Regions from separate parts of the Homo sapiens genome. Here region 1 is linked to region 2. A link means that fine-mapping ties the variant in region 2 to the expression of a gene that starts in the linked region. Tissue or cell type: sun-exposed skin. Region 2 holds a variant in brackets; the other region holds the start of a gene. All regions are shown on one strand. Distances are from middle to middle.

What was found. PIP is the estimated chance that this variant, and not a neighbour inherited with it, causes the effect. A credible set is the group of variants that fine-mapping cannot tell apart.
Region 1: LINC02871 starts here. The variant in region 2 is the best candidate, but not a certain one, in a credible set for the expression of LINC02871 in sun-exposed skin (GTEx, PIP 0.56).

Annotation. Positions count from the first base shown.
Region 1 is chr20:11,024,051-11,029,433 of GRCh38, forward strand. It overlaps LINC02871 (long intergenic non-protein coding RNA 2871), which reads left to right and starts at 2,494. Exons shown (of 4, transcript NR_146878.1): 1 at 2,494-2,524; 2 at 3,701-3,856; 3 at 4,112-4,234; 4 at 5,141-5,316.
Region 2 is chr20:10,666,679-10,672,061 of GRCh38, forward strand. All of the region lies in intron 2 of JAG1 (jagged canonical Notch ligand 1), which reads right to left. Among named protein-coding and RNA genes, the nearest start is that of JAG1, 4.6 kb to the right of the region's middle. RefSeq lists silencers at 3,964-4,013, 4,064-4,113. The variant G/A (reference allele first, on the strand shown) is at 3,386.

The DNA.
Region 1 (5,383 bases), 360 kb after region 2:
GTTTTCAATTCTCTTGGGTACATACGTAGGAGTAGAATTGTTGGATTGTATGGAAAACTTATGTTTAACTTATTTTATTTTACTTATTTATTTTTATTTATTTATTTATTTTTGAGACAGAGTCTTGCTTTGTCGCCCAGGCTGGAGTGCAGTGTCACGATCTCAGCTCACTGGAACCTCTGTCTCCTCCCTAGTTCAAGCGATTCTCCTTCCTCAGCCTCCTGAGTAGCTGGGACTACTGGCGTGCGCTACCACACCTGGATAATTTTTGTATTTTTAGTAGAGATGGGGTTTCGCCATGTTGGCCAAGCCGGTCCCAAACTCCTGACCTCAGGTCATTCACCTGCCTCAGCCTCCTAAAATGCTGGGATTGTCTACTTGAGCCACCGCACCTGGCTAAAAATTTATGTTTAACTTTTTAAGATTTTCCGAAGTGGCCACACTATTTTACATTCCCACCAACCATGGATAAGGATTCCAATTTTTCTACAGCCCAGATAATTCTGGTTATTTTCTGTATCTTTGATTATAGCTATCCTAGTAGGTATAAACATGTATCATATTGTGGTTTTGATTTGCATTCCCTAATGACTAATGATGTTGAGAATCTTTTCATGTGCTTATTTTATATCTTCACTGGAGAAATATCTATTCAAGTCTTTTGCCCATTTAAAATAGGGTTGTATTTTATTGTTGATTTGAAATAATAACTAAACCTTTCTTTATGCCAGATATTTTTATTCTGGACACCGGACTTTTATCAGATATAAAATTTGGAAACATTTTCTGCCATTCTGTGAGTTTTATTTTCACCTTATGAATGATGTCTTTTGAAGCACAAATGTTTTTAATTTTGATGAAGTCCAATTTATTTATTTTGTTTTGGTTGCTTATGCTTTTGGTGTCATATCCAAGAAATCATTGTCTAACACAAGGTCATAAATCCTGGCACCAATGTTTCCTTCTGAGAGTTTTATAGTTTTAGATCTTACATTTAGATTTTTGATCTAAAAAATTTTGATTTTGACTTTTGTTTTGAATAAATTTTTGTATATGGTTTGTGGAAGGAGTCCAATTTCATTCTCGTTGAGGTGGATATCTAGTAGCCTCAACACCATTTGCTTGGAAAAGACTACTCCTTTCCCCTATTGAATTGTCTTGGCACCCTTACTGAAAATCAGTTGACCACATAAATGTATGTGGGGTGGTGGCTGTTTTTCTCAGTCAATCTTTCTTCTCCAGCGGCCTTAAATATAACCCCGACTCATACAGTGGCCCCAGCTTTTGTCTCTGGTTGTGAAAGGCCACATGTTCCTGCAGGAGTTGAATTTAGGCTACCAGCAACTCTGTCCAGCACAAAGCTCAAAAGGCAGGACTACCACCTCTTACTTTGTTCTCTCTTCTTTCACTTACTTTCTGTTTTAATATTAACATCTACTTTGTTATGTGATTTTTTTTTGAGTAATTAAAATATTATCTATCTATCTTCTACCCAATATTTTTGTGTATGTATGGGGGGGTGGTGTTTTTGTGTGCTTCCTTTTATGTTTTGACAAAAAATAAATAGTACATATAATTCTTAGGTTCTGTGTCATGTATCTACCATTATGTAATGCTATGAAACGACCACAAATTATCAGCTGCATGCAACAATAAGCACTTACTACTCACAGTCCAGGGATGGTTGGTTGGAAATTTCTGCTGCTTTTGGCTAGGATCGTCTGATGGTCTGGGAGCTGAGTGGCTCTTGGCTGATCTAGGCTGGCCTCAGCTAGGATAACAAGGACATTCAACTTCTAGTCAGGTAGATTAGGAATTTCCTCATGGGATTGCAGAGACCAAAAAAAGGCAGAAGCACATTTTCAGTTCTCTGATACTCCTGCTAATATTGTTTGGGTTAAAATAAGTTGCATATCTGTGCTCAGAGTCAGGGGGTTGGAAGGTTATGCTGCTCATGTTGAGACAGCACTGAAAAGTGACATGGAAAAGAGCAAGGATATGTGTAGGTGTGTGAAGAATTGGAGCCATGTTTTGCAACCATTCGACCACAAGCGTTTAAAAAATATATATTCTATTACTCCATAAGAAAAAAAGAGGACGAGGGAGAGAAACATGAGGAGGATAGAAGTAACTGGTGAGAAATGAAGAAAATTAGGATTACATGATATTAATAATTGTTGAAGCCACCTAATGGGCACATTGAAATTTCACTATCCTGTGCTCTATACTTTCATGTGTTTGAAAATTTTTCACTATATAACAATAAAATGATATATAGTCTATGTTTGTTGGCTATAAAAGTCTTTATTCAGATATATTATGTCAAAGCTGTTATTTATTCAAATCTTTTATATTTCTAGTTATATTTTTCTACTTTTTAAAAAAATTTTTTAGGTAATTGTACTAAACTCTTCCACCATAATTGTGATCTCATCTTGGGATTTGCCAAAAAACATTTATAGCATGTCTGAGAAGTCCAGAGGAAGTATATATCTCCTCTTTGCTCCAACCTTCTTGTAGCAGGGTATGTGTTGAATCAGTCTGTCCTGAAATGTGTGAGTCTTTTAAAAAACTGAATACTATTGGTCATTTTTGTTTGGAGATTTCTAAGGCAAGAAGTTTGTCTAAGTACCCTAAACCAGCTGGGCACTGGGGGCCAGTGACAGGACTAGGAAAGAGATACTCATGTCCATTTCAAAGACTTTTGCCCTATGGAAGAGGCTTCTGTTAGCTTCTGTGACCTCTGGTGAGTTGATGCTGGCATTAGCCACTGGGCTGTCTTGCTGATAAATTGGCTAAATCATTAGACATATTCCCAGAAGGGAGTATATGGTGAATGGCTCATATGGGCCCCCGGGAAGGTGGCTGCACCTCTGAGGGTCCTTTGTGCTAAGGGAGCAGAAAAGGACCTCGCTCATGTGCTGGATAAACATATTTGTCACTGTTTTCATTATTTCCCTATGTATAGTTTTAAATTTTTCATTACAAAGTCATTTATTTAAAATAGTATGTATGCACTGGCAACCAATAATTTTCCCTTGGACACAGTCCTGTGGCAAGGATCCAATGTGATAACATATCAAGTTAACAGAATATTTTCAAAATACTCAAATTTGGTCTCATAAATTACTGAAAATATTCATATTCAGTATCATTGTTGTTGAATTAGATGTAGAAATAGGTGACAGTGGCCTTTTCCTATGCCCTGAAACCTCCTTTTGCCTTATTGCCACCTTTTGATGCGATGCTGAACAGGTTGACCTCTGAATCTTGAAGAGCCCTTTGTTTTCCCTCCTGATATCATGTTGGAATTTGGAAGAACAGTGGGTCTTTTGGTTCACTGCATTCCACTGGGACCCTTCCAACTCCAGCTCATTAGAAACACCCCCGAGCCTGAGGACTAACTATGATGTCATATGTCATAGCAATGAAGTAATTATGGCCGGCCAAGGCAAAGAACAATTTTATTTTTGCTGCTTTGAGAATTTTCTCATATTGCTTCAAATGTAACTCCCACCTTTCAAGTAAAAATTATTATAAGTAGATTCCCAGGGTCAAAAGAACAAGTGGAAACTTGTTGGATGGGGTCAACCTGGAAACTGCTGAGATATTTGTATACATATTCCCTTTATCTTGCTTTGGCTCAGTTTTTTTTTGTTCCTTTCAGGTGTGCCTAATATTATACTCTGTGTTTTGAAAGGTTTGAGGGAGAAGGCTGCAAGGAGTCCTGTGGGAGGCCCTGGGGTCTTATTAGTTGAAGGAAACAAATCATCATACCTTTAATACTGGCTCCAATTTGCCCCTTTCATGAGTAGTCTTGGAGAGATAATTGCTAATCTGGAATGGACATACTTCTGTAAGTTTATATCAAATACATTTTTTCCATTAAATAATATTTTTCTGTATTCCAATTTTGAGGAAAGTAAGTTAATTTAATTTTTCTTTTTCCTCTGATATACTTTTTAATGAATAGATTGAAAATTAAGGAGTGCCATTATATATACACTACTCACTTTAGATACAATGCTTTGAAAATTAATGAGTGCCATTTTATACACACTGCTCACTTTAGATACAATGCTTTATATATCTTAACTCATCTCTCAAACAGTGATCTTGGTTGGCATTTTTCAAACTGTGATGAAGACACTTTTTATAGCCCTGTTCAGAATACAGAAGGAGACCTACTCTTCTTTGATCACAATCTAAAGACAGACAGAGGACATGTGGAAAGGTAAAGAAAGTTCCAACATTCAGTAGGGAGAATATCGTCACAAGCCTTCCCTCTTTATCTCCTTTTTAACTCTCTTTTCAGATTAGGTTTGTGAGGAGATGATTTATAAAAGGTAATTTGTTGATCTTTTTTCCCCGGAGAAAACATATATGGTTTTCATCTTAGTCTCTGCAGGGTATGTGACCCACAATATATTCAGAAACCTCCAAAAACAGTACTGCTATTTACTATTATAAATGCATAAAAATAAAAAAACTATACATAGAAAATTAATAAAAGAAAGATATGAATCTTTTCTTTCACGTCTTTAACATGGCAGTACGTAAGTATACAATAGAAGTGATATTTTCATTCTCAGTCACCCAGTTTTATATTTCAGAATAAATTTTGACTTCCTTCTCCTTTTTCCTTTTTCTTTTCTTTTCTTTTCTTTTCTTTTCTTTTCTTTTCTTTTTTCTTTTCTTTTTGATGGAGTCTTGCTTTGTTGCCCAGGCTGGAGTGCAGTGCACGATCTCTGTTCACTGTAACCTCTGCCTCCCAGGTTCAAGCAATTCTGTCTCGGCATCCCGAGTAGCTGGGATTACAGGCATCTGCCACCACGCCCAGTTAATTTTTGTATTTTTAGTAGAGATGGGCTTTCACCATATTGGTCAGGCTGGTCTTGAACTCCTGACCTCAGGTGATCCGCCCTCCTCAGCCTCCCAAAGTGCTGGGATTACAGGCGTGAGCCACCGTGCCCAGCCCTTTCTCCTTTTTCTTATACTCATACTCAAGCAAATGTTATTTTCTTCCAGAGGTAGTGTATTAATCTGATTTTGCTACAATAATACGGTGTAACAAACAACCTCAGATTCTCAGTGGCTTCCATGAACAAACATCAGTAACATATATATTTCTTGCTTATAGATCTGTCATGGATTAAATATAAACAAAAATGAAGCAAGAAACAAAACTAGTCTTTCAATGAAAAGCTGAAGATGCTGAAGAAGAAATGCAAAATCATTTCACAAGAAAAACAAAATCAGACCAGGATCACTTGGCGTACCATCCTAGCAAAATATATCTTCTTGGAGTTGCCCTGACAATGCTCCTCAAAAACTACTTTCTTCATCTTCTTGCGGGTTAAATACTGGGATTAAATCCTAGCAT
Region 2 (5,383 bases):
TCTTTAGTCTGGATTTGCAAAGTGAGTCACTTCAGCCCCTTCCCAGCTCCAAGCCCAAGGAAATCTGGAAACCTGGCAGCTGGTTCCCATTCTGGTGTGGCATCAAAGAGGAATGGTCAGCCTTCGGAATTGCTTTTTGGAAGATTTCTGTGGAATTCTACCTAGAGGAGAGTCCTGGCATCAAAGCCCCAAGGCATCCAAGGGCCACCAGGTTCCCAGCAAGGCTGGGGCCCCTGCACCTCCTCCCGCCCTCCACACTTAGGCTGCTGTGCCAAGGTTGTGTTCTCTGCCCTGTCCCACTCCATGGCGGTTACCTTGGCACTGGGCAGAGCGGTAAGCACTTAATTGCCACATTAAGAAGGGGGGATGTAAGAAACAAAGGTAATTGTGTTGGCAGCCGGGAGCTTCCTTTTCCTGGCAACAGTGACAGCCAAACCAAGCCCTGAGAAGCGGCTGCCTCCCCTCCTGCCAAGCTGACGGACACAAATAAACCGCCATCCAAACGGCACGCGTGCGGCGTCCAAAACCCCAGGCTGCTGCGACAGGCAGGCCCGCCGGCGGCACGCACATCCTGGGAATGCCCGACGTGCCAACGCGGCCATTGTGCACAGTCAGTCGGCTCCCAGGGTTCGTCAGGGGCCCTGAGCTCTGCTGACTCAACTGTTGCTTCCTGTCGCTTGTCCTGTGTTAGCATTATTTTTGGAGAGGCCCTATTATTCTCCATAATCCTCATTTCAGTCAATTCGGCCAACTCTATTGTCCTGCCTGTGTCTGGGTGGCCAGAGTATAAAATATTCCAGTCACAAAACATATTAAGCAGAAAAGGTTGCAGGGAGTCCATGTGTGGCGCATGCACACGTACTCATGCACACAATGCGAGTGGGTTTTGGGAAAGTGAGATAAGAAAGGACAACTATCCTATAGCATCTAGGCTAAGACTTCAGGCACAGAAAGCAATCAAGTCTGTAGGGCTTGACATGTCAATAGAGTCCGATCTGGTTACAAAGGGTGATTTTCTCATCAAAGCCCACTCAAAGGCTCACCAAGGGGCCCCAAAGCTCATATCCAGATTTGTGACTCTCAATGAGACATCCCCACCCCCTTTCCCATCATTACCCTTACCTGTTTGAAAAGCATCCCACTGATAATTAAATGCACCAGTTACAAAAGGGTGGCGAGGTTAATAGATAGAATACCAAGAAGCCAGCCAAGCACAACGGTCTGGTTCACACAGAGCAAGCCTGAACAAGAAGCCTTTCTGTTTATTTACCAAAAGTGCATAAAAACTGGGTTGAGCTGGTAGAGGACTCTGCATGTTTGACTATTTATGTACTCCTTTAACTACTGGGAGCCACCTTGCGGAATTTCTTCCCAGCACACGCACTGCACCAATGGTAGATGTCACTGGCACCATAAAAAAAAAAAAAAAAAAAAAAAACAGCAGTCACAGGGCTGCTGTGGTCCATGCGGTAATCAGAAATCAGCAAAGAAGTCACAACACAGCCACCCAGTGCCATGCACCAAAGTAAAGGTGGGATTTTTCTGAACCCAGGACCCTCCTCCATTTCCACCACCATTTTAGAATCACCACTTTCCATTCATCCCAATGTATCTTCCAACAGTTGGAAGAAAAGATTAAGTTTTGAGAGATATATATATATTTAAAAGCTGAAGCCAAGAGTCACTTCTCTCAGCAGCCTAGATCCTAGGCTTGAAGGATGGGGGTAGGTGGAAGAGCAACATGCCTTACAGAAGTTTACCATGGAAGAATTTGCAGGAGTATTTGCATTTATGGATTACAACGCTAATTGTATGCACATCCAGAGATCATGCATTCTTACATTGTCACTAACCTTGAAAGCCGGACATTGGGACCAACTTCTGGCCCTTCTACAATGGGGCCAGTGGGTGATATGAATCCAGCCAAGGCCTCTGGTTCACATTCCTGTTTTCAGATCAGGAACTGTGAAGGCTCCTTGTTACCTTGACACTGTTTTTTTTTTTTTAAGTAACTTTTTTCTCCATGCTAAACTTTCCACGTCTTCTATCTAAAAGGTCCCCAAAGGCACCACTATTTGGTGTGAAGATTTTGAGCAGCACTTAGATTGCTGATTTTCTGGGAGGTTGCATGCCTGTAAGTTGCTGCTGACTCTCCTTTTAACCCACTGAACTCCCCCAAGAGCCTCCACGCCAAAGTTTCACCGTTTTCTAAAAACATCTTAAGTCCCTGTAGAATTACGGGTGTGGAACTGGTGGGTTGCAAATTCCTATAAGTACTGGAGGTTTGAATAAGTTGCTAAGAAACAAGACAACAAGGAGAAAGAAAACACAGAAGGTTACACCTGCAAGAGAAAAAAAAATTAGAAACCAAGTACCTGGAATAAAGATTCCATTTTTGGAGCAGCTATTCTGCAGATACTTAGCACAGCTCTTTCAAAGCAAGCACAGCTTCACTTTCCCCCAAGCCCAGTGTTGCAACACAGATACATCACTTCATCCCTTTGGTTTGAGGTAGACTTCTTAGGGCAAAAGGCGTTTTCTCCACATGCAGAAAGTCCCTTGCTCTGAGCACATACGTACACACATGCTCTTTCTTTGTATACATGCTGACTACACGGGCAGGATGCAAATCCTGGCTGCAGAAAGGAGGCAGGTCAAATCAGAACCCCATCCTTAAGCCCTCCATGTGCCCACACCATATCTACAGAAGCTCAGGGACTGGAAAAGACAGCAAAAGGCATAAAAGTAAGGGCCTGTCAATTACATTCTGTGATTAGCATCGTGGCAATTGGTCATTCAGGCCTGAAGCATGAAGGGGGCCAAAGCTGGCATCCCTCACACAGAAGAATCACGTTTCATTGGATTTTCCAAAAAAAAAAAAAAAAAAAAAAAAAAAAAAAAAAAAAAAAAGTTGATCTCAGCAAGTCTTTTAATAGGATCAATGGAATTTAAATATGAGGCTAATAAGCCAGATACCCCAATTTCTTCCCCTAACGTTTCTCTAGATTCATTTCACTCTGGGGCCACCGATGCAGCAATACAGCTAACTGGGGTTCTGAAGTTCCCAAAAAGCTTTTGGAGATGAGTAGTGGTAATTACACTAATGTATTTTTAATAAGCAGGCACTACTGGGATTTAGCACTAATTTTGGGAGGTACAGATTAACCGTTTCAGTGATTTATAAGTGGTAATTCCTAAATTATTTCCTGTTAAGCCCAATTACTTCCCACAATAATGGTTCTTATCACTTGGTCCCCCAATTTGAGAATCATTAATCCAGATAGTTGCTGCAAGTTAAGCCCCTTAGAGCAGCAACAGTATGAGAATTAGAAGCCAGTGGTGAAAAACTACCCCAAGACCAGAGCCGGGGCAGGGGACACCACGT[G/A]GGACATACTCAGATATGATATATGACAGGAAGGGCCACCTCTACAAAGCCTTTCACATGCACACCAGAACATGGACTGTATTTCATATCTGACCAAATCGTTTCCTCCTCGTCCTCTCTAGAACATGAACAGTTGCTTGGATAGGGGTCATAATTCCAAACAAAAAGCATGAACTACATGACCTTCTACACTGACCTACCCCTGCACCCTTTGCTGATACCCAGCGTCAGCAAATTTGGGAGGACTCATGCAAATGGTAATTGTGCCTGCTAGGGGTTGGGAGCCCAAGGTGGTTTGGAGTTTTGTTTTGTTTTTAACCATATATCCTTTTCTTGCTATCTCTTGAATTCTGTACTAAGTTCATTTATTTCCCATTCAAGGAAATCAGTTTTAAAAGACATAGTTAATTGCCAAACTAAATGAAGCTGTGCCCTCTAGTTAAATACTCGCTCAGCTACTTAAGTGTTTCAGTTACGTTTCTACTCAGCCTGGAATCATTCTTGAAAGTTACGGACTGTGCCGTTTCTCCAACCACATACAGAAAAACAAATACACCTAAACTCCAATTTCTCTTGAGAATTAAATCTTATGTTTCACAGCAGGCCTTTCTGGGGCATCAGGGTGGAGACTTGTTTATGAGTGATACATGCGTTTGTCCCAACTTCAAAAGAACCACATTTTCAGTGGTGCCCCATCGGTCTTCCCCCATTCGAGAAAAGCCGAGAGTCTATTTCATGGTTGGTGACCCGTGGGGCCTGAAACCACAGAAGAGCACCAGCAAATGCAAATCAATCGCCTCTCCTACCCTCCCACACTATTTCCGCTCGTTTTCCATTGAGGACTCTGACCAAGTGTCAAAAGCGGACAGACGCACTTTTCTAGGTCACTTTTCCTTGGCCAGCGAGGGAGCAAGCCTCCTTGTTTTCATGTTAGCCATCCCTCTGACCCTACTCTCCAAAATGAGCCTCAGCCAGGCTGCTGCTTTTCCACATCACTAATAAGATTCCTTTTATGGTCTTGTGAAAAGCGAGGGGCTCCAGACAGATCCTCCGGCAGGAGGGTGGAACCACCTGCAGGCCCCTTCCCCCTAAACTCCAAACACACGTTCAAGGGCAGTTTGAGTATTCACAGTCAGCTTGGGCCAGCCAGATTTAAACGCAGCCAGACTCTTTAGCTTAAAGTTCTCCCTAATAGGGGATTAACAAACAAGATAAATACTCTTGGTAAAAATGAAATCCCACAACAGAAACAGCCCTTGGACCTCAAGAGAGCTTCACAGACAGCGTTGGTTTTAATTTTTCTTTTTATAAACCCCTTTTCATGGCAGTTTTTGATAACTGTCTTATCTCACCCACAGCAGAGGGCACTTTATAATGCCAGCTCCTGTAATCGTGGATTTTAAGAGCCACCCCAAGCTTCATACACAGACACAGCCAGATAGTCTCCCCTCTGTCTCCTCCCAGAATCACAACCTAAGCCGGCGGACAGGAGGCAGCAGAGTGCACCCCATTAGAGCACGTGGTGGAAAGCAATGCTCTGGGGCACCGAGCTCCCCCTCTCACCACCCACCCTCCCAGCACAGGCTAGGCCAAGCCCCAGTCTTGGCAATGAGTCATGCCTCCTGGACAGCAGGAGCCAGGCAGAGGGCACACCCCCAACATTTCCCTTTCCTCCCCTTCTGCAATCGCACCCATCTTCCTTCCACCCATTTTGGGATGTTGCAAGGGCCTCGCTGCAGGATCTGCCAGCTGGGCCCGGGCCTCGAGCTCCTTTGGGGGCGGAATGGGGCGGGGGGATGAGGGCCTATCACTTACACCCTCAGGCACTACCTCCAGAAGACCACCCCTTCCAAGCCTTGGCACGGCCCCCGAAGGCTTGCGGGGGCCGTGCACCCGCCCTTCCCGGGGAAGTCTGCAAACACAGCTGTTCCAGAGCCCGGGAACCGCTGGAAGTGAGGCCACAAGAGCTACACCACTCGGGGGCGGGGGCAGGAAGGG